Linked DNA regions of Homo sapiens. The main gene of each other region encodes a partner of the protein of the gene in region 2 in a complex. Each region holds a gene or a part of one and is shown on either strand. Other genes may lie near its edges. The genes, in order: TAF1A, UBTF, TAF1C and POLR1B.

What was found.
Region 1: UBTF (region 2) and TAF1A share a complex: the UniProt entries of both Homo sapiens proteins name them as parts of the pol I pre-initiation complex.
Region 3: UBTF (region 2) and TAF1C share a complex: the UniProt entries of both Homo sapiens proteins name them as parts of the pol I pre-initiation complex.
Region 4: UBTF (region 2) and POLR1B share a complex: the UniProt entries of both Homo sapiens proteins name them as parts of the pol I pre-initiation complex.

What each region holds. Positions count from the first base shown.
Region 1 is NC_000001.11:222,572,919-222,579,946, reverse strand, and holds part of TAF1A (TATA box-binding protein-associated factor RNA polymerase I subunit A), read left to right. Parts: intron 1-56; exon of another isoform or gene 57-74; coding exon 75-188; intron 189-2,303; coding exon 2,304-2,502; intron 2,503-7,028. UniProt on the Homo sapiens protein: Component of the transcription factor SL1/TIF-IB complex, which is involved in the assembly of the PIC (pre-initiation complex) during RNA polymerase I-dependent transcription.
Region 2 is NC_000017.11:44,204,524-44,209,687, reverse strand, and holds the end of UBTF (nucleolar transcription factor 1), read left to right. Parts: coding exon 1-43; intron 44-146; coding exon 147-336; intron 337-1,776; coding exon 1,777-1,824; intron 1,825-1,848; exon of another isoform or gene 1,849-1,917; coding exon 1,918-1,989; intron 1,990-2,090; coding exon 2,091-2,234; intron 2,235-2,320; coding exon 2,321-2,446; 3' UTR 2,447-4,648; downstream 4,649-5,164. UniProt on the Homo sapiens protein: Recognizes the ribosomal RNA gene promoter and activates transcription mediated by RNA polymerase I (Pol I) through cooperative interactions with the transcription factor SL1/TIF-IB complex.
Region 3 is NC_000016.10:84,184,043-84,191,980, forward strand, and holds the start of TAF1C (TATA box-binding protein-associated factor RNA polymerase I subunit C), read right to left. Parts: upstream 3,016-7,938; 5' UTR 2,859-3,015; intron 1,542-2,858; exon of another isoform or gene 1,440-1,541; coding exon of another isoform or gene 1,438-1,439; intron 1,019-1,437; 5' UTR 948-1,018; coding exon of another isoform or gene 947-947; coding exon 809-946; intron 1-808. Other genes in the region: ADAD2 (adenosine deaminase domain-containing protein 2), read left to right, coding at 7,189-7,606. UniProt on the Homo sapiens protein: Component of the transcription factor SL1/TIF-IB complex, which is involved in the assembly of the PIC (pre-initiation complex) during RNA polymerase I-dependent transcription.
Region 4 is NC_000002.12:112,552,458-112,559,485, reverse strand, and holds part of POLR1B (DNA-directed RNA polymerase I subunit RPA2), read right to left. Parts: intron 6,842-7,028; coding exon 6,670-6,841; intron 5,948-6,669; exon of another isoform or gene 5,796-5,947; intron 4,963-5,795; exon of another isoform or gene 4,907-4,962; intron 1,577-4,906; coding exon 1,405-1,576; intron 194-1,404; coding exon 1-193. UniProt on the Homo sapiens protein: Catalytic core component of RNA polymerase I (Pol I), a DNA-dependent RNA polymerase which synthesizes ribosomal RNA precursors using the four ribonucleoside triphosphates as substrates.

The DNA.
Region 1 (7,028 bases), on a different chromosome or scaffold from region 2:
GGAAAACAATATCTTAGACAGAAATTGGTTAAGGCAAAAATTTTACATTTTGGCAGTAATTTCTGCTTTGACAGATTATTTGGAAGCTCGGAAGTGAAATTCTATTTTATCATCCCAAAAGCAACATGGAGAGTTTCAATACTTTTGCTAACCGGATGAAAAATATTGGCGTCATGAATTATTTAAAGGTGAGAATATGGGCTTTGTGAATTTACACTTGCAGTATTCTTTTTTTTTTCTAATTGCTTGTGTCAGTGATAAGGTAGTTAACCTAAAAAATGTGGGACAAGGATAAGACATTCTGGATAAATAAGAGAAACTGAAAGAAAAGAGCGTTATGAGAACCATTTACTTCTTGATTTTCAGGCGCCTCCTGTGTTCTCTGACTAAAAATTCCTTTTCTTTGTATATTTCTTCTGGCTGCCAAAACCAGTTATTCAGAGATTGCAGTGGTATGATGATGGGCCAGATTCTAAAATGTTTGCTGAAGTCACTTGAGCTTAGAGTTGGTGTTTAGAAAAGGAAAGAGCTAAACAAGTTGGGAATTTAAATACGTGAAAATATTTTAATACTTCTAATGTTTAGGTGGAATCTTCACCTCCAAGTTCATATATCCTTTTGTAAAAGTCTTATCCAAAAAGATTGAGACATTTTCAAAATATTGTATCTCCCTCTCTATGTTTTTGTCTCAAAGAGCACTTTTTCAATACAGGTTTGTAAATGCTTTGCTTTAAAAAAATGTTTTGAGTGTCTATTTGTGTGCCAGATGCTCTTACGATTTTGTTCTCTGGTAGACCAGGTATACTGTGAGTGGAAATTAAATGGGGGCAGTTTACGGTTCTACTTAAGAAAAAGCTTTCTAACTAAACAATTGGAAATGGGAATGGCCTACCCTGATGTGTGCTCTGCGTCTCTTTTTTCAGGTCTAAACTGGATAGCCATTTAATTAGGGAGGGAGTGTGAAGAGTAAACTGTTGGTTAGGTCCCTTTTGGCTCATAGAATCTACTCAGTTGAAGTAAAGAAACTGAAAGGGAACCTCATTTCTCAATAAGAGTCTGAGAGTGATAATTAGGATAGATAATACAATTTTTTTTGTTGTTAATAATTTTAAAAACACTTATTGCCGCTTACCAGGCAATATGCTAGACATGGTTCTTATAGTAGAGGAAGATCATGTAAATGGAATGAAGTGTTATGGGTACCATAGTAGAAATGTAACAAATGGTGAGAAGATAAAGGAGAAAATGGCCAGTTCTCTGGAACTAGAGAGGGTTGGGATTTAATGGGTAGGGGAATCAGGAAAAGAATGAAAGTGATACTTGAGATAAGTTTGCAAAAGCAATTGGCCATTCACTAGGCAGATTAGGGGAAAGGGCAGCCCTGCATGGCGGGGGTTATAAAGAGTTTAAAAGCCCTACATCCAATAATTTAGTTACTCTAAAAATCACTTGGGTAGAAGTTGGGGGAAGTAGGCTGGGCCCTGTGTGCCATACCCAGGGAACTTGGATTTTAATTCTGTAGTCAGTGGGAGCCATTGAAGGAGTTTATGCAAATGACTAACAAGATGAAATTTCTTTGGTAGCCACTTGAAAGATGGATTGTAGGGAGGCAGGAATGGAGAGGCCAGTTGACAACTTATTGCAGTACTTTGGCTCTACCCATATGATTAATTGTAGTTCTCATTATTCTCCTCTTTAATGTCTTCCCTTTTTGTAATACTCATTCTTTGTATAATTTTTCTTCCTGCTTCTCCTGTATCAGGGATACACTTTCCTCTCCATCTGAACTGAAGCCATTCTTCAGCATCCCTTATTAAGATATTTTCTCTAAGCTTATATAACATGTATAAAATAGTAATATTTGTTGAATGTCTGCTATGAGCCAAACTATTAGGTGATTTGCAAGTATTATCTCATTTAATCTTGAAAACACCCTTCTGAAGGGGCAGTAATGTTCCGTAAAACAAATGAGACTCACAAAGAGTGAATAATTTACCCAGGTTTATTTAGTTTTTAAGTGGTGTATGAACCAAGACACTCATCTTCAAAACCTCTTTTTTCCCCACTATATCACACTGTCTTTTGTTTGTAAGTTTACATAATTTAGCTCATATTTACATAGTGTTAATTGTTTCCTATGTCTTACTTCTTTGCCAGATTGTACCCAACATCAAAATTTTCCATGTCAAGTTATTTGTATCCTACCAAGGTCTTTGCCCAGCATGTATTATATATTTACTGAGCTTTTTGACTAATGGTTATCTAATGGCTTAAATGGCGGTGTACCCTTATTATTTTTGCAGATCTCCTTACAACATGCATTATACCTTCTGCATCATGGAATGCTTAAAGATGCTAAGAGAAATCTGAGTGAGGCAGAGACATGGAGACATGGTGAAAATACGTCTTCCCGGGAAATATTAATCAACCTTATTCAGGCCTATAAAGGGCTTTTACAGTATTATACCTGGTCTGAAAAGAAGATGGAATTGTCAAAGCTTGGTAAGTGAATACAGGTAAACTTTTTCTTATGATGAGACTGAGGGGCAGAGGGATCTTAAGGAGTAATCTAGTAATTTCCCTATTGACTTCATCCAGATATTATGGAGAACAGACTTTTTATGGATTTAAAATTCTTGATCCTTTATAATATTTCTGATATATAAAAAGCTTCAATCATAAATTAGATGGTTCATAATTAAGTTCATGATCATTTTAGGTTCATTGCTGTTTTGAATGTGATTTAGTCCAGGATAAACACAGCCAGACACAGCAGTGGAGACAGGTTTGATTCAGTAACTACTGACAGGAGGAAGAGCTAAACTCCATTCCAATTTCTATGGAGGTGACTTGGGGTTGTAAAGGGTGGGGGTGGGGAGCTTAAAAAGCAGAAGGCAGAACCACCAGTAAATTCTTCTGGAGTTTTCCCAGGCAAACATTTCAAGAGGGGCTGGGGTCATCCTGGGGATGTGGCCTTGAGCTGTTAGAAACTATGTTAGTGTTCTAGAAACTATGTTCAAGTATTTATTGGCCAAGTTTGAGGCCTAGTCCAGAAGAGAGCTCAGAGGAGCCTGGCTGGAGTTTGGTCAAGAAGAAAGTCTTTGCCAATTTCTAAGAAAGGCTACAGATTTTCTTCAGCAGTCATTATTACATATAATAAACATTTCTTCCTGTGTGCCTAGAATGGAGTTTAATTTACTTTGTAATGTTATTTCTCAGAATAATATGTTTAAAGAATAGGTCAAGATGGTCATTTCATTTTTGTGTAAAGGTTATAATGGACAATTTTCTTGATTTATTGACTATACCAGAAGTTGACCATTCAGTTCTCAAACTGATTCCCCTTCTCTTAACCTTCAATGGTGTTATCATCTTCATTTATGCCCAGATTTGCATTCACTGGAACTGTATGATTCTTTGCAATTCGCTTGCCTTGTATAGTTTCTCCGTAGGGGATAATCCTCGAGATTAACCTAATCTCTATGATTAACCCCTTTCTGTTTTCATCCTCCTCCATATCTTAGTCCTACTATTTATCACTTCTTATGTGGTAAGCAGTATTTCCTTATTATCCTTATGTGATAAGTGGTATTTCCTTGGTCTCTGGGCATGTAGTTTCACTAATTTCGATTCCCTTCCCTCTTCTTTCAAGATACTCTGAAATGCTCTCTTCATCATGATAATCTTGTGAGGCCTTTGTAGAGTCTCCTCTTCTAGAATGCTCTCTATTCTTCAAGACTCATTGGATCGCTGTCCCAAACCCTCATTCTTACACCTTAAACTTAATATATCAGCTGCATGTTCAGCCTGAATCATTTGGCTATTCATCTCTTGCTTTCTAATTGTGCTAAGTTTTTTCATGTGTATTTTATTAGTCCAGATATCTTCCCGTTTAGACTAATCAATGTTTGATGTAATATTCCTCTATTTCTTTTGTTAGTCTTGTCATATTTTCTGGTGTAATAGTTCTTTTTCAAAACTTACTCATTGATTAGGTTAGTTTTAAAGTCAGTATTTACTTTTCTTCTTATACATGGTTAGGTAAAACTCAAGCAAATATCTGATGATTAAAGCTGTTGGAACATCGCATTTGTAATGTTACTCTTGTGGATAGATGGTTCAGTACCTTTCCGTAGCTGACAGTTCTGTAGCAACAATAGATGATGATGGGATAATATGTAGAGCTCTTAGATGATCATTCACCTCAAGTGTCTATTTAACGAGAAAAAAAGTTAGGACTAGTTCTTTATAACCAAACTCATGGGCACTTACCATGTGAACTTGTACTTGGAGTCAGCTTGGGACTTTCTTGCTGTTATGTGGCTCTGTCTTGGTTGGGATTGATGCACTTGGTGACTAGGAACCTCCTTCTATAATAAATTCAAACCCAATTTATACTCAGGGATCTGTCTCTTTCTCTTTGAGGCAGAGTCTTGCTGTCTCAGTCTGGAGTCTCTTGCTGTCAGGCTGGAGTGCAGTGGTGTGATCACGGCTCATTGCAGCCTCGACCTCCTGGGCTCAAGTGATCCTCCCACCTCAGCCTCCCAAGGACTTGGGACTACAGGTGTGCACCATCAATTTTTTTTTTTGTGAAGATGGGGTCTTACTGTGTTGCTTAGGCTGGTCTTGAACCCCTGGGCTCAAGCAATCCTCCTGCCTCAGCCTTCCAAACTGCTAGGATTACAGGCGTGAACCACCATGCCCAGCCCTTTTTTTAAAAAAAATTTTTTTCCATATAATGTCTTACCTACTTTCCTATCACCTCATTTCTAAGTTCATATTGATATGTATTTAACTGATCCACTGGGAAAAAGATACCAGTGCCTCTGTTTGGTTTGCAGTATCTTGTGCTTCTAATAGCTATTTTTGAAAGACTTGAGTAACTTTCTTTGTAAACCTTTAAGATTGAGAAATAGATACAGAAAAAGCATATAAAACAAATGTGAGATATAATGAATAAATTTAAAATGGACATTCACATAACCACCACCCAGATTAAGAAACACAAAATACTGTCACCCTAACCTAAAATTCTCCCTGTGTGCCTTCCTGACTGCATTTCCTCCCATTCTCTCTCAAGAAAATCCCTGTCCTGACTTATGTTAATCACTCACTGGTTTTTCTTTATACTCTTTCCACTCATGTATACATTTGTAAACAATGTGATTTAGTTTTGCCTATATCTGAATGCTGTATTTGGAGTTGTACTGTATATATTCTTTTAGGCCTTGCATATTTTGTTCAAAATCAGTTTTAAGATAATACATGTTATTGGATGTAGCTCTAATTTATTCATTTTTTATGGTTATAAAATATTTTATGATAGTCACACTATTCCTTCTATTACTGATGGCCATTTAGGTTACTATTTTGGGCTATTATAAATAATTCTGCTTTGAAATGAACCCCTATTAATTTCTGTATACCGGTGCACATAAGTATGCATTTCTAGGAGTAGAATTGTCATAGAATATGTTTTGTGCGTCTTTAACTTTGGTACATAATATACTAAACTCTTTCCAAAGAGGTTACCAATTTGTACTTTACCGACAATCTGATTAGAGTTTTCTTTTGTTTGTATTCTCCTCAACATTTGTTATTGTCAGAGTTTTCATATCAGCCAATTTGTTGGGTGTAGTGATCTCTCATGGTTTTTTTTCTTTATAGCTTTATTGAGAATTAAGATATAATTCACATACCATACAAATTCACCCACTTAAAATATACAACTCAGTGGTTTTTAGTATATTCATAGAGTTGTAACCATCAGTACAATATTAGAATATTTTCATGACCCTAAAAAGAAACCCTGTGCTCTCCCATTTCTCCCCACCCCTCCAGTCCTAGGCAACCACTAATCTGCTTTCTGCCTCTAGAGATTTGCCTGTTCTGGACATTTCATACAAATGGAATCATACAGTATGTGGTCTTCTTTTACTTAGCATAATTTTTTTTTTCCCTAACAGAAAATTTTGACAAAGAAAGCATAATGTTTTTAATGTTATAGCATGTAATGGTACTTCATTTCTATTACTGAATAGAATTCCATTGTTTGTATATACTATATCTTAGGTATCCATTCATCAGTTGATGAACAATTAGATTGTTTCTACTTTTGCCTATTTTGAATAACATTGCTGTGAACATTTATGTACAAGTTTTTGTATGGACATGTGTTTTTATTTCTCTTGGGTATATACCTAAGAGAGAAATTGCTGGGTCATATAACTCTAAGTTTATCCTTTTTAAGAACCACTGGACTGTTTTCCAAAGCAATTGCACTATTTTACATCCCCAGTAGCGGTGTATGAGGGTACAAATTTCTCCACATCCTCACCAACACTTGCCATTATCTGTCTTTTCTATTATAGTCATCCTGGTGGGTGTGAAATGGCATCTTGTAGTTTTGATTTGCATTTTCCTGGGTGTTAATGATGTTGAGCATCTTTTCATGTGCTTATGGGCCATTTGTATATCATTTTTGGAGAAATTTTCATTCAGATCTTTTGCTCATATTTTAATTACCTGCTTTTAGATTATTGAGTTTTGTAAGAGTACTTAGTTGTTCTAGACAGAATTCTCTTATCAGATATATCAGATTCATGACTTGGAAATATTTTCACCTTTTCTGTGTGTTTTCACTATCTTTTTATTTTATTTTACTATTATTATTTTTTGAGACGGAGTCTCACTCTGTCACCGAGGCAGGAGTGCAAGTGGCGCAATCTCAGCTCACTGCAACCTCTGGCTCCCAGGTTCAAGTGATTCTCCTGCCTCAGCCTCCCGAGTAGGTGGGATTAGAGGTGCCTGCCACCACGCCCAGCTAATTTTTGTGTTTTTAGTAGAAATGGGGTTTCACCATGTTGGCCAGGCTGGTCTCGAACTCCTGACCTCAAGTGATCTGCCCACCTCAGCCTCCCAAAGTGTTGGAATTACAGATGTGAGCCACTGTGCCTGGCCTTCTTTTCACTATCTTGATGGTGTCCTTTGAAGCATAAAAGTGTTTCATTTGATGAGGTTTAATTTAA
Region 2 (5,164 bases):
CCAAGAAGATGAAATTCCAGGGAGAACCCAAGAAGCCTCCCATGTGAGCCTGGGGGTTGGAGTCTGCCCTGGAGGTCGGGGAGGGTCAGGGCTGGATGGCTGCTTTGTTGGGGTCCTGACCCTCCTTCTACCAACCCACCTCCCAGGAACGGTTACCAGAAGTTCTCCCAGGAGCTGCTGTCCAATGGGGAGCTGAACCACCTGCCGCTGAAGGAGCGCATGGTGGAGATCGGCAGTCGCTGGCAGCGCATCTCCCAGAGCCAGAAGGAGCACTACAAAAAGCTGGCCGAGGAGCAGCAAAAGCAGTACAAGGTGCACCTGGACCTCTGGGTTAAGGTGAGAGGGCAAGGGACCCTTGGAAGGAACAGAGAGGCATCAGACTAAGCCAGCACCATCCTAGCCTGGCCCATCCACCCACTTGTGCTGGCTGGTCTCATTCATGATTTCATTCCATGCCCTCGCAATCCTTCAGGATAACGGTCACTATCACCCTTTTATTTTTATTTTTTTTTTTATTTTTTGAGACAGTCTTGCTCTCCTGCCCAGGCTGGAGTACAGTGGTGTAGTCTCGGCTCACTGCAACCTCCACCTCCCAGGTTCAAGCGATTCTCCTTCCACAGCCTCCAGAGTAGCTGGGGCTACAGACATGTACCACCACACCTGGCTAATTTTTGTATTTTTAGTAGAGATGGGCAGGCTGGTCTCGAACTCCTGACCTCATGTGATCCGCCCACCTCGGCCTCCCAAAGCACTGGGACTACAGGCTTGAGCCACCGTCCGCAGCCACTATCACCCTTTTAAAAATAAGGAAACCAAGGCTCAGAGAGGTTAAGTAACTTGCCCAAGGTCACACAGTAAGTAGAAGAATCCAAATCAGACTGCCTTTTCCTCCCCCATCTGGGACCACGGGACCTCTCCTAGACTCCTGGCCTTTGTGCTTCCCCTCTGTGCTTTGGTTGAGTAGTCAGATCTGTAAAGTGGAGAGAATCACCTGTGTCCTTCCCACTCACCAAGGCAGGTTGGCCAAGGACCCAGGAAGACTGTGGGGATTTGCTGTTTCAGGAGTTTGGTGAGCCCCACTGCCTCATCGATGGCTCAAGGGTTTGGTGTTGGGGTGTGGTTGATGATGCCAGGCTGACTCATCACGGGGGCACTTCTTTGGAGTGAGGAAGACTCTGATAGGAGCTTCCATTTGCGAAAAGCAACAGGGAAAATGTGAAAACCAATAGTCTTAGTGGTTTAGAGAAGGACTCTGGGTATCAGAAGCAGAAATACTAGGGTTTGGGCCAGCGCAGTGGCTCACGCCTGTAATCCTAGCACTTTGGGAGCCCAAGGTATGAAGGATCACTTGAGGCCAGGAGTTCAAGACCATCCTGGGCAACATAGTGAGATTGCTGTCTCTACAAAAAATTATAAGGTAGCATGGTGTGGTGGCACATGCCTGTAGTCCCAGCTACTCTGGAGGCTGAGTTGGAAGGATCACTTGAGCCTGGGAAGGTCAAGGCTGCAGTGAGCTGAGATTGTGCCACTGCACTCCAGCCTGGGTGACAGAGCAAGACCCTGTTTCAAAAAAAAAAAAAAAAAAAAAAAAAAAATTAGAGCTGTGTTCTCAGATCCCAGGGGCTCTCTGCAGAGACCCAAAATCTAGGGAGCCTGGGAGGGGTAAGATGGGGTGATGATATATAAATGCTCAGCCCACTGCCTAGCACTGGGCCAGCATGCTCAGTCAGCAGTAGTTGGCTATGTTCCAACCCTTGCCGCTTCTGTCTCCCCCAGAGCCTGTCTCCCCAGGACCGTGCAGCATATAAAGAGTACATCTCCAATGTGAGTCTGGGAGCAGAGCAGCAGTGGGGTAGGGGTGGGGGAATTCAGGGGTGTCGAACTCATGGCTGCCACCTTTGTGTCCCCATCCTGCAGAAACGTAAGAGCATGACCAAGCTGCGAGGCCCAAACCCCAAATCCAGCCGGACTACTCTGCAGTCCAAGTCGGTAAGGAGCCCCTCCCAGATGCAGGGGCGTGGGGCGGGGGGCACTGCCTGGAATGGTTGGGCAGAGACCAGAGACCACTGATGTGCCTCCATCCCTCCAAGGAGTCCGAGGAGGATGATGAAGAGGATGAGGATGACGAGGACGAGGATGAAGAAGAGGAAGATGATGAGAATGGGGACTCCTCTGAAGATGGCGGCGACTCCTCTGAGTCCAGCAGCGAGGACGAGAGCGAGGATGGGGATGAGGTGGGGCAGACAGGGCACAGTGGGAGGGGAGGGGAGTCCTGCCAGGAGGGCCACCTGGTGACTCCACATCCTTTCTCACCCCCCAGAATGAAGAGGATGACGAGGACGAAGACGACGACGAGGATGACGATGAGGATGAAGATAATGAGTCCGAGGGCAGCAGCTCCAGCTCCTCCTCCTCAGGGGACTCCTCAGACTCTGACTCCAACTGAGGCTCAGCCCCACCCCAGGGCAGCCAGGGAGAGCCCAGGAGCTCCCCTCCCCAACTGACCACCTTTGTTTCTCCCCCATGTTCTGTCCCTTGCCCCCCTGGCCTCCCCCACTTTCTTTCTTTCTTTAAAAAAAAAAAAAAATACGGTGGGGGTAGGGGGCTGGAGGAGCCCAGGCCAGGACTCTGCAGCCTCAGAGACATCAGCCCTTGGGGGTCCTCCTCCAGGGACAGCAACTATCAGACTAAGCCAGCACCGGACCAGCCTGGCCCACCCCACCCACTTCTGCACTTGCGGTTCCGGCATGGACAATGGACCGGAGAGTGGGGGTGGGGGGTCCCAAAGAGTTTGATGAGGCCCTCCACACCTGCGGCCCAATCCAAGGTGGGGTGGAAGCTTGGGGAAGACCCATTCCTTCCCAGAGGGGCCTGCCACCTGGACCCCTGCATTGGAACTGGAGGCAGGGAACATGGGGAGGAGGAGGGTCGGTGCCTTCAAGAAAACAGGCACTGCCCTGGTGGCCCTCTCCCCTGCCCCCTGCAGGAAGGAGCTGCCTGGACCCGTTCATGGGGGAGGGGGCAGAAGTGTTTTTTATATATGTGTATATATTTTTTTTTAAGCTCTGAGCTGTCAACGAGACGTTTCCTACCGATCTCGGCTGCCGTCTCTGTTGTCATTTCTGGGAGAGGGAGGGTTTAGGGGTAGATTTGGAACCTTTTAAAAATGGTCTTGATGTATGTGGAAGAGAGTATGTGTATGTGTGTTCCTGTACATAGCATGGGTGCAGCTGTGGATGTGTGCAAAAGAGTGTGAGTGTGTGTGTGTGTGTGTAAAGGGGTCTGTCCTAGAGCCCACATCAGTTTGTTGTGAATCTGGAAAAAGGGTCGGTGAGGGCCGGGAGATGTTGACCCTGGTGGGAGCAGGCTGAGGCTGCCCCGTTCTCCACATCCTCTGTTTTGCCCAGTCTCTGATTCCATTAGGGGGAGTGTGCTGAAGCCATTCTCGGATGCTTCCCAGACCAGGCTCCCTCTGCCAGAGTCACATGCATCCGAGCTGCTGGTCTCCATTGTCCAGCAGGAAGGCGGAAAGGCAGGCAAGATGGTGTGAAGCTTAAAGCTTGTATTTGATGGAAAAGGTCTCCCCTGTTCATCTGAGAGGCCAAGCCTGGCCACCCCAGGCTCAGAACCTGGGCTTCAAGAAATGTGCTGGGAGCTCCTAACTTACACATCCCTCCAGCCTTCCTTGAATCCTCCCACCACCCCCTATTTCCTTTAATTTCTCAGGTCTGCTCCCTCCTCCCCCAACCCCACAGCTGGGCAAGAAGTCTGCAAAAGCTGCATCTGCAGCTGTCTCTAACTCTTCCCAGCCATCTCCCGTATTTTTTGGTACCTTGATTCCTTGACTCTTAATAAGCCAAGCCACCTTATCTCTGTAGTTCTTATTTTTTTGTTGACTAAATTTGGGGGGTTCTTTTTTATGGTCATGTCACTGACCTATTAAATTGGGGCTTGGTGCTTTTCCACCTTCCCCCTCTGAATGAAAGCCAAGGAATGGGGGAAGAGCGGGAACTCTGCCGCGGAGGTGGAGCAAGAACGGTGAAGGGCCCTGGTCCCAGAGAGGCTGGTGGGTCCCTCTCCCAAAGGAAGGCAGACAGTCTCTGCTTTGCCTTGGACCTTGGTGCTGGGGGTGGGGAGGCCTGGGGGGGACACTCCCCACTCCCATTCCCCTTCCTTTGTCCTAATCCTGGAATTAAGTACAGGGGTTTATAGGTTCTATTTCTTCCCAAGAGCCCTGCAAAGAACCCCAGTTTCCTATTTGGATGCCCCTACACTGTTGTGTTTCAGTGGAATGTATTTTCATTTAAAAACAACTTTGAATGGGGCACTTTTTCTTTCCTGTTTTAAAAATTGAAAAATTCTTACAGTACAAACAGGACTGTCAGGGTGGGGGTGTTGGTGCTGTAAGAGGTCACTCTTGAGTGCATTTTGGCACTGGGATGGGATGGCTGGGGTGGGAAGACCCCCATCCCCACCCCCAACTTCTTTTCTAATATTTAAGGAGTGTTTTGTAGGATTCAACAACCACCACAACTTGAATTTGTATCATGGGAGGTGGGAGGGAGTGGCTTAGAGGTGTCTGCCTATGCTTAAAGCCAACTGTGGAAGTTTTGTTTTCCCTTTTTTGTATAATAAAGTGAAAAACAAAGGTTTGACTGCTGTCTGGTCACTGGAATCAATGAAGGTTCACAGGGGTGACCCAACAGGTTTGATCTATAAAAATGCTTGAAGCCAATTTGCCTTTTCTTCCTAGAACTATCTTCCTCTTCCCTAAAGATTCCATAGGCAACCTACCTTCACATTGTTCTGTGCTACTGTTCTTGCCCTTTTCTCAATTCCATTTGTTCACCTTGGGTTGTGAGACCACTAAAGATTCTGAGAAGTTGGAGAACAAATGCATTTTCACCCAAAGTACATGGTCTTGGGGAATTGGAGGTGATGAGCTACTAGGGTCAAGGGTTCGCCCTGGGCATGCAAGCCTTCCTAGTGTAGGGCTTATCGTGGGGAGTTGAGGGAGCACGCTCTCACTTTGAGCCTTCAGCTCCATCCCAGGTTAAAGGTTAAGGGTTAAGGATGACTTTCCTAGGACCATCTAGGCCTCTGATGGGAAGCAGGCTGGGCTGGGCTGAGATGACTCACTCTCTGAGATTAAGGGAAGACACCC
Region 3 (7,938 bases), on a different chromosome or scaffold from region 2:
CTGGCTCTCAAAGAAGGAAGCCCCTCATGCCACCAGTGGCTGGTCCACATCTCACGTAACCTCACTTCCATTCAGGAGACCTTGCAGTCACTCTGGGAGCCCGGCAGGCGGCTCCACCTCCCTTTGCTGGGCTGGCCTGGGATGTTTCGGCCCAGACATTCAGGGGACAAAAGAGCTAGGAAACCAGACTCCCAGAGGAGCCCCAATTTGACGCCAGACCCTCCCTCGTAAGGATGCCATCCCTGACCCCCGTTCCCCAAGCCTCTGCTCCACTGTCTCTCTTTTTATTTGCTCACCCACTTGCCTCTGCCAGGCTTCATTCCCAGACAGGGTGTTTCCAAGGGGAACTAGGCGGCTGAGGATTCCAAGCAAAGGGCCAGTGTCCCTCCAGAGGCAGCAGAAACCCTGCAGGTCTATCCTCCCCTCTCCCAACCCTACTATGCTGTTTCAGCATCCTTCTGCTTTCATTCCAAGCTCTGATCACATTTTGTAAACACCTTATCCATTGGATAAAGTTCACTTGTTTATTCTCGCTCAACTCAGCTCTCCGTTCCAGGAAGGGAGGGGTCAACCGACTGATTCAGGCAGCATTCTCACGGTCTCATAAGGGACCCGGCATAGTGGGGGCATCCGTCTAGGGATGGCAGGGTAGCCCATGTACCCCAGAGGAGGTGGCAGAGCCTGTGTCTCAGCAGACTCGTGTGAATGCCACCACTCTGTGGCCTTGTCAACTGATGTGAATGTGAGACGGGGGACCCAGGGAAGGGATGTCCCTGGAGCTGCCAGGGCCCCCTGCCTGCATCCTCACCTCTGAGTTCTGGGGCTGGGCCTCTGGCAGAGTCAGTGCGTCTCGCCAGCTGCACATGAAAGAGAGGTCAGGGACGTCGCTCAGACCAAGGGGGCCGGTCAGAAACAATGCAGGGCGGAGGGAGCTGGGGAAGTCCATCCTGGAAACAAGGACCAAGCACCACACTGGCCACCTCGAGAGACTGGAAGCTGGTAAGGGGCGCCAGAGTTCCTGAGGAGTGAAAAGTGCACTACGGGAAGCATATGTTCTTTGAGGAAGCAGATAACAAAAAACAAATATGTAGCCCAAGGCCAAGCAGTAGTGAGAACTGTATTAAAGCCAACCACCCGTCCAGGAGAAGGGGATCTGGTAGTGGGCTGAGGGCGTGGTTTCAGCAAAGCCAGCCAGGAAAAGCCTCGTTGAGAAGGTGGCGTTTGAGCACAGCCTGAACCTAGTGAAGGAGAGAACCATGTACGCAACTGGGAAGAGGGTTCCAGGCCGAACGGTCAACAACTGTGAAAATCCTAGAGCAGTGAAGTGTGTGAGAAAATGAGGCAGCCAGAGTGAGCGAGGTGGAGAGCGGTGGAGATGGAGTCAGAAAGACGGCAAGGGGCAGCCTCTCTCCCGGCTCGTAAGTACCGTCATCATACATTTACAGACTACACCCCCAAGACGCTCAAGTTACTCCACAGCCAGGGACTGCATCTGAGCATCGTCTTCCTACTGTCAAGCACAGTGCCTCCCAGAAAATGCACTAGGGGTTGAAAAAAATAAATTTCTATCACAAGGGGCCGGGCGCGGTGGCTCACGCCGGTAATCCTAGTACTTTGGGAGGCCGAGGCAGGCGGATCACCTGAGGTCGGGAGTTCGAGACTGGCCTGACCAATGTGGAGAAACCCGGTCTCTACTAAAAATACAAAATTAGCCGGGCGTGGTGACGCATGCCTGTAATCCCAGCTACTCGGGAGGCTGAGGCAGGAGAATTCCTTGAAGCCGGGAGGCGGAGGTTGCGGTGAGCTGAGATCGCGCCATTGCACTGTAGCCTGGGCAACAAGAGCGAAACTCCATCTCAAGAAAAAAAAAAATTACATCACAAGGCTTTGGTAAATACAGTCCTCTAGAAGTATGAGCAGCCATAGCATCCCTCCTTTTTAATTAACAAAAATAACAGGGGCAAAAATAACAGCAGCGCTCGCTGACCAAGCGCCAGCATCTATCTGCCAGGCACATGCTAAATGCTGCACTCTTCTATCGCCGTCCCTGTTAACAGAGTTCAGGAAACGAAGGCTCAGCAAGAACTTTAGTCCAACAGCTCTTAGCTGCCACAGCCAAGACTTGATTCCCATCCGATTCAGAGGCAGAGCTCCGAACCAGTGCTCTCGCATGCACCGAAATGCAAACGCTAGCATTAGAGTCTCGCTATACAAAAATCTTTTCCCTTTGGCCGGGTGCGGTGGCTCCCGCCTGCAATCCCAGCACTTTGGGAGGCCAAGGCGGGCGGATCACCTGAGGCCAGAAGTTTGAGACCAGTCCGGCCAATACAGTGAAACCCTGTCAATACTAAAAATACAAAAATTAGCCGGGCGTGGTGGTGTACACCTGTAATCGCAACTACCGAGGAGGCTGGGCACGAAAATCGCTTGAATCTGGGAGGCAGAGGTTGCAGTGAGCCAAGATCATGCCACAGCACTCCAGCCTGGGTGACAGAGCAAGGTTCTATCTCAAAAATAAAATAGAAACAAAAATATTTTCTCTTGGAACCGCATAGCCTGAAACGATCCTAGACAGGCGGAGGGCGCTGGTGGAGAGCACGACCCCACAAAAGCCCTCAGACAAGGCAGCCTCGACTTCCCCGGCCGGCTTCCCGCCCTCGCTGCGGGCTCTCCAGGACCCTTTAGACCTCCAAGGCTACAGAACTCAGTCGGATCCGCAATAACGACAGGCCGGGGACTGCGAAACGTGAGCCTGCCGCGGGGACTGGGGATTGGGGGCGTCCCTCCCCTCCTACATCTGCGGGTCCGCTCCTCGAACACGCGCAGTCCGCGCGGAGGGGGCGCATGCGTGCACTTACGTGACCCCGGCCTCGTCGTGGTCGTCTGGAAAATGGGCCTCGGCGTGATGCTCGCCGGACCCTGGCACCACGAGGGAAATCTCAAGTAGAACCCCAGCTTTGGCACTCGGGACGGGTCAGCCCCGCCGCAGCTACCCACGGTCTTCCGGTTTGGACCGGAAGTGCCTCCTGCGGAGGCAGGAAGTCCCGCCTCCCAGCCAGGCCTCTTAGGGTCCTGGCGCGCCCCCTCCCGGGAGGAGAGGGAACGGGCGTGCAGGCGGCGCGTGGGCAGCGGAAATAAAGCTCCCTTGAGTCCCAATAGTGGAGGCCGGGTGGACTTAGGTTCGAATCCCACATCTACTTCACCAATTTCCTCAGAGTTGTATTAAATTAATCATTTAACGAACTCCCACAGAACACCTACTATAAGCCAGACCTGTATTGGTCAGTAGGTATCCTACTGATTGTCCTTAAATCCCAAGAAGCGGGCTTTACAAATAAGGGTACAAATACCTACTAAGAGTGAAGCTTTTCCAGGGGTGGTCAGGCAGGGAGAGCTTTAGGCAGTGGTCTTCAAACTCTAGCTAGCGTGCGTCAGCAGTAGCACCTGGGGGGCTAGTTAAAACACAGTCTCCAATTCGGTGAGTCTGGGGTGGGACCTGATGATTTGCCTAAGTTCCCAGGTGATGCTGAAACTGCTTATCTGGGGGCCATGCTTTAAGAACCACTGTCCAGTCATGAACCTTACCGTTATCCTAACATAGTACTTCTCAAACTTCAGTGAGCCTTAGAACCACCTGGGGGGCTTGTTACAAGTTTGCTAGGCTCCACCCTACCTCTGCCCCCCGAGTTGCTGATTCAGTAGATCTGGGATGTGGCCCAAGAGTCTGCATTTCTAGCAAGTTCCCAGATGATGCTGGTCCAGGGGCCATACTTTGAGAACCGTTGCTTTAAAGAATCAATTTCCAAATTCTCAGCTGTCATCTATGTCTTTATTTATTTTTTTGAGATGGAGGCTAGAGTGCAGTGGCACGATCTTGGCACACTGCAACCTCCGCCTCTTGGGTTCAAGCAATTCTTCTGCCTCAGCCTCCCGAGTAGCTGGGATTACAGGCCTGCGCCACCATGCCCGGCTAATTTTTGTATTTTTAGTAGAGACGGGGTTTCACCATGTTGGTCAGGCTGAGTCTTGAACTCCTGACCTCAAGTGATCCGCCTGCCTAGGCCTCCCAAATTGCTGGGATTACAGGATGAGCCACCACGCCTGGCCTATATTGTTTTTATCTGGAAGTTTTTACCTGGACTAAAAGTGCCAGCAGGGCTGTGTTCCTTTTGAGAGGCTCTAAGGAAGAGTCCACTATCTTGTCTTTTCTGGCTTCTGGAAGCTGCCTGCATTCCTTGGCTCATGACCCCTTTCCATCTTCAAAGCCAGCAATGCCAGTCGGATTCTTCTCATGAGGCCATCTCTCTGGTTTTTACTCTTCTGTCTCCCTCTTTCCCATGTAAGGACCCATGTGATTATAGTAGGCCCGCCCAGGTAATCCAGGATAATCTCCCTATTTTATTTGTTTTATTTATTTTTTTGAGACAGGGTCTCACTCTGTCGCCCAGGCTAGGGTGCAGTGGTACCATCATGGCTCATTGCAGCCTCAACTTCCCAGGCTGAGATGATTCTCCCACCTCAGTCTCTCGAGTAGCTGGGATTACATGCAAGCACCACCATGCCTGGCTAATTTTCTTTTTTTTTTTTTATTTTGAGACAGAGTTTCACTCTGTCACCCAGGCTGGAGTGCAGTGGCGTGATCTTGGCTCACTACAACCTCCACCTTCCAGGTTCAAACGATTTTCCTGCCTCAGCCTCCCGAGTAGCTGAGACTACAGGTGCCTGCCACCACACCCAGCTAATTTTTGTATTTGTAGTAGGGACGGGGTTTCACCATATTGGCCAGGCTGGTCTTGAACTCCTGACCATGTGATCCACCCGCCTTGGCCTCCCAAAGTGCTGGGATTACAGGCATGAGCCACCACGCCCGGCCTAATTTTTGTAGTTTTTGTAGAGATGGGATTTCATCATGTTGCCCAAGTTGGTCTCTAACTCCTGGGCTCAAGCTACCTTCCCACCTGGGCCTCCCAAAGTGCTGGGGTTACAGGTGAGAGCCCTATTTTAAAGGCAGCTGATTAGCAACCTTACTTCCACCTGCAACCTTAATGCCCCCTTGCCAAATAATATACTCATAGGTTCTGGGGATTAGGCTGTAGACATCTTTGGGGGAACCATTATTTTGCCTACCACACTAATATTCTACATTACCCTTGTAAAACGCCTATCCAGCTTTGGCACTGCGAGGCCAGTTCCATTTCTTCCTTTCCTCCTTTCTCTGAATAAGCCATTATCAATTTGCTTTTGTAACTGACATATACTCAACATGCAGTAAAGCACACGAGTCTTAAATGTACAGCTCATTGAATTTTTATTCATACATAGAAACCCACATGAACACCACCCAGATCAAGACAGAGAACATTTCTATCACTCAAGAAAGTTCCAGCCAGGCACAGTGGCTCATGCCTATAATTCCAGCACTTTGGGAGGCCGAGGTGGGAGGGTTGCTTGAGTCCAGGAGTTCAAGACCAGACTGGTCAACAGAGCAAAACCCCCATCTCTACAAAATTTTTTTCTAAAAAGAAAATTCCCTGGTGCCACTTCCCAGTCAATACTTCCTTCAAGAAGGAACCACTATTTGGACTCTTATCACCACAGATTAGTTTTGCCAGTTCAAGAACTTTACATAAGTGGAATCATGGAGAGGATGTGTCTGGCTTCTTCCACGCCATGTGCCTAATAGATTCACCTGTGTTGTGTACGCAGCTGTTGTTTCCTTTTTAAATTAGTGAGTCGTGTTCCATTGTATGAATATACCATTGATTTGTTCACGCAACCTCCTGTTGGTGAGCGTTTGGGGCGTTACTGGGTTTGATGACTTTGTGGAAGTCTCTCTGTGGATATGTGCAGCCCTCAGTCCATTTCTGGACATCTGCTGTGCTGTCCCTTCACTCTCCTGGGCCTCATCCCACTCTCTGGGCTGCACACACACACAAAATGGAATTGTTCTTCCTGATGTCAATTCTTGACATGTTGGGGAGGCTGACTACCCAGCCCACCACACCTGCTTCTTCCAAGTCAAAGGTTCTGGGAGGACTCCACCACCTGGTCCTCATATGCCCCAGCATCCTCACTGTCACAATCCTGGAGAGAGCTGCCAGGCCCAGCTTCAGCAGCAGCAGCAGCAAGCACTGTGACAAATCTTACAGACACTGGTCATGCTTTCCCAAGTTAGTGGCTACTGTAAGACTCCGTTAAACTTGCAGCCTCCTTCAAGCAAATACGCGTTGCATCACAGTAAGCCTTGTGTAAATTGTCTTCATCCCTGTCTTTATCTTATTTTTCCTATGTCTCTTGATCTCTAGCTCTTCACTTTAAACAATTGTTATCTTGTCTTATTTGTATGAATTAACTCAAAATCCCTTCTTAGGGGGGAAAAAGGCAGAGTATCAAATGGCTATTTTCTTAAAAAAAATTATTTATTTATTTTTTGAGGCAGAGTCTCGCTCTGTTGCCCAGGCTGGAGTGCAGTGGCGCAATCTCAGTTCACTGCAGCCTCTTCCTCCCAGGTTCAAGCGATTCTCCTGCCTCAGCCTCCTGAGTAGCTGGGACTACAGGTGTGCGCCACCACGCCCACCTACATTTTGCATCAAATGGCTAATTCTTGGCTGGGGAACACTTATGTTTGGCTTCAGAAAGGCCTGCAGTGAAATTTTATATCCAATGATCCTGCTGACAGTGTGAACCCCTAATTCCTGTGTTGAAGTCTCCAGGCTCAGCCAGTGAAGCAGCTGAGCAGCCTGTGATGTGGAGGTGCCTAGGGGCCTAGGGCAGGAGCTAGAGTGTGAAACTGGACCTGACGCCCCCAGATGCTCCTCCCCCGCCTTGCAGGCTCCGCGACCACCCACGGTTAAAGAAGCAGCTGCTAGAGCAACCCCTCACCCACCCACCGGAACTTCCCTCCAGGCCATGGGACGTTGGTCTCAGCCGGAACTTCCGTCCAGGCAGTGGGACCTTGGCCTCAGCCATAAGCATCCAAGCCGCCGTCGTTGGGAGACTGGCCTTCCCATTGGCAGGGTGCACTGTCCATCACAGATCTCAGGGCTCTCATTGGCCATCGTATGGCAGGGGTGGAGCTCACCACGCTTCGTCCGCGTGCTCCCCACGTGAAGGCACCCGCCCTGCGCGTGTGAAAGGGCGAGAGCAGCGCGAGATAGGGCCTAGCGCCTCAGATCTTCGTTGGCGGCCATGGCTTCGGCTTCTCAGGGCGCTGACGACGACGGCAGTCGTAGGAAGCCCCGCCTGGCTGCATCGTTGCAGATCAGCCCCCAGCCCCGCCCCTGGCGACCGCTACCCGCCCAGGCCCAAAGTGCCTGGGGGCCCGCGCCCGCGCCCGCGACGTATCGCGCGGAGGGCGGGTGGCCCCAGGTCTCGGTGTTGAGGGACAGTGGGCCTGGGGCAGGGGCCGGAGTCGGGGAACTGGGGGCAGCCCGGGCGTGGGAAAACTTGGGGGAACAGATGGGGAAGGCCCCGAGGGTCCCTGTGCCCCCAGCAGGGCTCAGCCTGCCGCTCAAAGACCCACCTGCCAGCCAGGCCGTGTCCTTGCTCACGGAGTACGCGGCCAGCCTGGGCATCTTCCTGCTCTTCCGGGAGGACCAGCCACCAGGTGAGGCCGGGCCGGGGCATGGCTGTGCCAGAGGGCAGAGCCACGGAGGGCTGGGTCCCAGGACGTGGGGAGCAGGGGGTCTGGGGAAGGTGGACCTTGGTCCCTATGCTCAGAGACACCGCCGGAGCAGGACCTGGCCTGAGCTTGGGACCTTGGGGTGGACCCTGCTGTGAGCAGCGATCTCCAAGGATCACCAGCCACACCAGATGCTCAACTGTGAAAGAGTCATGGCAGGTGAACATTCTTCCCACCTGACTTCCAGGGAGGTTAAGGCCCCCTGGTATTTCTGTATACGTTTTTAGAGCCACTTACATGCAATTTAAGTTGCCGTG
Region 4 (7,028 bases), on a different chromosome or scaffold from region 2:
CAGGGCTCCCCGTCTGGGGTATGCACGGGACAAAGGAAGCCCCAGGACTCTGGCAGCAGCCTGCGTACTGTGGTGGTCCTCATCTTGGCAAAATCAGCCCCTCTGTGCACGCAGCGGAAATGGGAGAGGTAGCGTATGAAGTTCAGCTTGTCAGCCACAACACAAAGTCCAGAATCTTGTAGGAGGCCAAGACCTTAATAAAACAAAAGTCATTCAAAAATGGGCCAATCTTTTGAAAAATGGAAATTGTTGAGGCTTTATGACGACAAAACCTCAGAGCACTCTACAGATCATAGAATGAATTATTACAACATTTATTCTCCTAGCTCTGATGAGTGTAAAGAGTTCACAAAAAAATATGTAAAATAATCCCCAGATTTCACAAACTGTATTAGCCCCAACTAGTTCCCTGTCTCCTCTATGACCTCCTTTGTGGGTGAACATTAAATGAGTTAATAAAATAGCAAGTAGTTAAATTCATCTGAGAGAGTCAGATAATAGACAAGCAAGAAAGCAGGCTAATGAAAGAATCGGCAACAGTAACATGGGTTTAAAAAAAAAAAAAAAAGGCGGGGCACAGTGGTTCATGCTATAATCCCAGCACTTTGGGAGGCCAAGGTGGGTGGTTCACCAGAGCTCAAGAGTTCCAGACCAGCCTCAGCAGCATAGCGAAACCCCATCTCTACAAAAAATACAAAAATTAGCCAGGTGTTGTGGCTTATGCCTGTAGTCACAGCTACTCGTGGGGCTGACGTCGGAGGATCACCTGAGCCTGGGAAGTCAAGGCTGCAGTGAGCCATGATCCTGCCACTGCACTTTAGACTGGGTGACAGAGTGAGACCCTGACTCAAAAAAGAAAAAAAAAAAATTCTGAATTCCCAATTACCACTTTTTAAGTTTCTAGGGTCATTCTCTTTTTTGTTGAGACAGGGTCTCACTCTGTCACCAGGCTGGAGTACAGTGGTGCAATCACAGCTCACTGCAGCCTTGACCTCCTAGGATCAAGTGACCCTCCTACCTTGGTCTCCCAAAGTGTTGGGATTACAGGCATGAGCCACCACACCTGGCCTCTCAGGTCACTCTGAGGCAAGGCAAATGGTTTAGAGATGGGCATGTACAGCAACCCATCTAGAGTTCCTGTTAGGTAAGCCTTCCTCAGAGGTCTAAGTGGCCTTTCATTTTCTAGAAGGAAGCAGAGAAAATGTATTCAGTTATCTGAATTAAATTTTAGCTATACAGACACCTTGTCTAAAGCCCTTTAGACCAATAGTTGTCGAAGTCATAGTTATGAGAAATTTACTTTTTTCGTGGGGTTTGCTTTTAAAAAGAACTCTCAGGGACAGGCAAATCTACACTAAGCAACTAATTTGAAAAACATAACTAAAACGATCGATTTAATTTTACCTGTTTTAGAACGCAGATTCCCAGTAGCAAAAAGGTATTCAAATGGTTTTGTAAGGTCTATGCCCATTGTAAAAATCCTCATCAAATTGTCAGTGTTCATGGAAACACTGGTCTTCTGAGCCTTCTTATCAAAAGCTATTTTAATAGACACTAACCAACCTTCCAGTTTTTCCTGAAATAAGGAAAAAAAATTAATATAAAATAGTATGTGAGCCAGGTGTGGTGGCTCACATCTATAATCCCAGGATTGGGTGGATCGCTTGAGACCAAGAGTTCAACATGAGACTGGGCAAAATGGTGAAACAAAACCCTGTCTACAAAAAAATTAGCCAGAGGGGGTGGGGTGAGGGGGTGGGGCGTGCCTGTAGTTCCAGCTACTTGGGAGGCTGAGGCGGAAGGATCGCTTGAGTCCAGGAGCCTAAGGCTTCAGTGAGCCATGACTGTGCCACTGCACTCCAGCCTGGGAAACAGGGCAAGACCCTATTCTCAATAAAATAAAATAGTATGTGTTTCAATTATCACAAACTTCATATTTATTCCCATGTAATCTGTACGATCTTTAACAAACGTCTACTAACATACATCAAAACCAAAAACCTGAAAGAGGGCTTTTCAGGTGCAGAAAGGATAGCTCTTCAATGTGATGCCCTCCTTCACCCATTATACTTGTTATACATCTAAAACCAATCACACGAACTACACAGTCCATCTTAATCTATGCTGCCAACACTAAGTGAAAAGCCTAAAGCAGCCTGCAATTCCAAAATTACAGCTAGACTGGAGGAATGAGTTCTGGTATTCTGCAGCAATGTAGGTTGAATACAGTTAACTATATTTGTTGTATATTTTTTCACTGCAGCCTCAACCTCCTGGGTTCAAGGGATTCTCCTGCCTTAACCTCCTAAGTAGGTGGGACCATAGGTATGTGCCACCATGCCTGGCTAATTTTTAAATTTTTTTTGTAGAGATGGGGGTCTCACTTTGTTGCCTAGGCTGGTCTCAAACTCCTGGGCTCAAGCAATCCTCTTGCCTCAGCTTCCAAAGTGCTGGGATTACAGGCGTGAGCCACCACACCCAGCCTTATTGTATATTTTCAAAAAGCTAGAAGAGGGGATTTCGAATGTTCACAACACAAAAAAATGATACATGTTTGAGGTGATGAATGTGTTAATTACTCTGATTTGATCATTATACATTATTGACATATATGGAAAAATCACTGTATACCCGATAAATATGTACAGTTATTACATGTCAACTAAAAATAAAAGAAAAAAAGACTATACACCATCAGCGCTTTCTATGGGTGGTTCAGAAACCACTGAAAATACCTAAGAGAATGTTTGAGATAGGTTCTCTCCTATATTTGATATTTGGAAGAAAACGTGGAAGATGTACATAGGTCACTCATGTATACCTTTTCCAGCAGGCCCCTGAGTCAACACATTAGCCATTGACTATTGATAATCCACCTCTTCAAACTATCAGTGTTTGAACACTCACACTTGGAAGACCTAACTATTCTTCCAGAAGACAGCACTGGAAGTGACACATTTCATTTCTGCATATTCTCTGGCACTGACACTGCATTTAATATCACTGTGGTGCAGTAATATTAAATTTTTAGTACTTGGAAGGAATAAATTTTGGAGAGGTGTGGGAAGAAGGAATATATTTTATAAAATGTTACAATGAATCTCACAACTGACTACACACTAGTAGGATTTGTAAGTACACTGCTAAAAATCTGTAATGTACAGATAAGGGAATTACCAGGGAGTGAAGGAAGCTGTTAGCTCACCCAACAAGGGTATTAATGTAGGTTTGGACTTTATCAAGTGAAACTAGAGAATCAAGTTTGAGTAGAAGAGCCTGGCATCACTGCTCCACCTCTGCTGGTTGCTGTTTAGATTCCTTTCTTGAGCCTACATCTTCCTGTGTCATAAATGTTTTTATCAGGTGTACACTGAACACTTCATCTTCACAGTCAAGATGGAATAAGAAGCCCTGGATCTTGACAACTGATTTGTTTGTGTTCTTCTCCCTTTTTTTTCATAACTATGTCTACTTCCTTATTTGGGTTTAAAATCAAAACCAGAAAGGCTAACTGAAGTGTTTTATGGTTAATCTACAATAATACAGAAAATATGGTTGCTATTTTTCAATTTTATATTGCTTATTTCAATGTAAATACAATGTGAATTTTTAACAGTCTATAATTCATCTTATGTCATGGTTATGTATCTTCTGAAGATTGTTTTTATGCTCCAAACTCAAAGGTTTAAAAGCTTTAACGTAGCTGGTAAGGAAATCAGATACTCGGCAATGAATTCTCTGAAAAAGCCCCAATTTTCCCTTGGTTTCTCTTGTTGCTGACACAGGTCACCTTAGTAACGCCTTGCTACAGAAGACTCATTTCTTTTTTCTGTTGAGACAGGGTCTTGCTCTGTCACTTAGGCTGGAGTGCACTGGCGTGATCACAGCACACTGCATCCTCCGCCGCCTGGGCTCAGGCAATCCTCTTACCTCAGCCTGCTGAGTAGCTGGGACCACAGGTGTGGCCCACCAGGCCTGGCTAAATTTTTTTAAAATTATTTGTAGAGACGAAGTTTTGTCTCTGGGCTGTTTGCCCAGATTGATCTCAAACTCCTGGGCTCAAGTGATCCTCCCACCCCGGCCTCCCAAAGTGCTGGGATTACAGGTGTGAGCCACCGCACCAGGTGTTTTTTTCTTTTTTCTTTTTGAGATAAGGTCTTGCTCTTTTGCCCAGGCTAGAGTGCAGTGGCAAAATCACCCCTTATTGCAGCCTTGACCTCCTGGGCTCAGGGATCCCACCTCAGCCTCCCAAGTGGCTGGGACCACAGTCATGTACCACCATGCCCAGCTAACAGGTTTTTTTTGGAGACAGGGTCTTGCTCTGTCGCCCAGGCTGGAGTGCAGTGGCGTGATCTCAACTCACTGTAACCTCCGTCTCCCAGGCTCATGCAACTCTCCTACCTCAGCCTCCTGAGTAGCTGGAATTGCTGCAGCATGCCAGCATGCCCAGCTAATTTTTATATTTTTTGTAGAGACAGGGTTTTGCAATGTTGCCCAGGCTAGTCTTGAACTCCTGAGATCAGAAGATCCACCCACCTTGGCATCTCAAAGTGCTGGGATTATAGGCGTGAGCCACCACACCCAGCCACTGCTAATAGTTTTTATTATTTCTGTAGCGATCTCTCTGTGCTGTCCAGGCTGGTCTCAAACTCCTTGGGCTCAAGTTACCCTTCTGCCTCAGCCTCCCAAAGTGCTGGGATTACAGGCATGAGCCACTGTACTCCTGGTCTCATTTCTTTTTCTTTTCTTTTTTTTCCTAATTAGGAATTGATGTGGAATAAAGACACATTTATAAGTGTGGAATACAATGAGCCCACCATGCTTCACTTTAAGTAGATGGGAAATGTAAATTAACCTTTACTTGAAAGGTTAATTTAATAACATTAAATTAATAAGAGAAAACTTACGCTGCCTGCTTTCAATTTTTGTCAGGAAAATTGTAGGCTGCTGAAATTTTTCAATCTAATTTTATGGACAGAGCAAACAGAAACAAAGATTATTACCTTTCGGGAAGAATGTAAATAAGAATTACTACCTAGATAAGAAATTAGAAGGCCGGGTGTGGTAGCTCACGCCTGTAATCCTAGCACTTTGGGAGGCCAAGGTGGGTGGCTCACTTGAGGTCAGGAGTTCGAGACCAGCCTGGCCAACATGGTGAAATCCCGTCTCTACTAAAAATAAAAAAATTCGCCGGGCATGGTGGCACGCGCCTGTAATCCTAGATACCCGGGAGGCTGAGGCAGGAGAATTGTTTGAACCCGGGAGGTGGAGGTTGCAGTGAGCTGAGATCGTAGCACTGCACTCCAGCCTGGGAGACAGAGCAAGACTCTGTCTCAAAATAAAATAAAATAAATTAGAAGCCAGGCACAGTGGCTCACACCTGTAATCCCAGCACTTTGGGAGGCTGAGGCAGGTGGATCACCTGAGGTCAGGAGTTCGAGACCAGCCTGGCTGAAATGGTGAAACCCCACCTCTACTAAAAATATATTAACTCTTAGATTACATCTTTTTGAGGATAAGATGCAAAATATAAAATGCCACTGAATCAATATTCTTATGAAATCATTTTTGTGCCATGCCAACTTTCTCTCTATATACATCTACAGTCAAATTTCACTACTCACAGTAGCTATGTTCTAATGAACACTGAATTAACACATATAAAACCACTACTCCTGGGGAAAAATACAGGGCTGGGTTCCTGCAAGTCTCTGGTCATAACATTCTGGTCAACGGATCAATATACAATCTTGTTTAATGTCAGCTTTTGTTGAAAGGCACCTTATTTAACATACCTTGTTAATTCATTAACACTGAACACTAGACAGCGCTTCAGTGCTATGCTTGGGGACCATTATAAACAGCAAAAACTGGCCAGGCTCAGTGGCTCATGTCTCCAATCCTATCACTTTGGGAGGCTGAAACAGGAGGATCACATGAGCCCAGGAGTTTGAGACCAGCCTGTACAACATAGTGGGACCCTGTTTCTACAAAAAAAATTAAAAATTAGCCGGGTGTGGTGGTGAATGTCTATAGTCCCAGCTGCTCAGGAGGCTGAGGTGGGAGGATTGCTTGAGCCTGGGAGGTTGAGGCTGAGACCCTGTCTCAAAAAAAAACAAAAAAGTCACCAATAAGAAGCACGACAATGTGAAAAACATAGCACCAAATGCACCTCAAAAAGGACCCTCTTTATAGTATGAGCTGAAACCGGAAAGCAGAGCATCGCCCTGCCCCGCCTCAGCTGTAACATTTGCCTCAGGAGACCCAAATTCTTCACTGCTCTGCTCATGTATGTGAATAATCATGAAAGCACTGAGCACTGACATTAGGGTTACAAATAAATTTTAGCCAGTGAGTGAATTCACAAATACAGAATCTACAAATAATGAGGATCAACCATATGTATAAATACAGGCCATTTGCTTTTTATCATTAACACTGTGACCAAGATTTGATGTGATCTTTACATAAAAATATTAAGCAAATTTCCAAACCTGGTGTAAGCCAGGATTTCTGATCCCCTTACTGCTAAATGAACAAACAAAAAAGAGACCACACAAAATGCCAAAACTAGAAACTATAAACATGCAGAAAACAGTGCTGCTGGACAAAGTCACGCCATTCCACAAGTGGTACCACTGGCCAAGGGTGGACATAGCATGCATTTACCTTCAGGAACATAAGGAAGAGCTGACCCGGTGTGAGGACTTCCTGGTTCACCAAACTATCAGGATTGTCCTCCATGCACTCTCCTTTGGCTAAAGCAAAGAGCTTTCGCGTCATGAGACAAAGCATATAAAACTTTTCAGTATTGGATTTCAAGTGGATACAGATGCACTGGCTGTGAAAACAGAAAAAAAAAAAAGCTTAAAACAATTCAGTTGGTAATACTACTTAATATTCTATTAACCAAGATCCCCAACTCATGCTTACTTAACTTTAATTAAATAAAATTAAGCATTCAGTTTTTGAGCTACACTGGCCACATTTGAAGTGCTTATCATGTGACTGGTGGCTATGCACTGGAC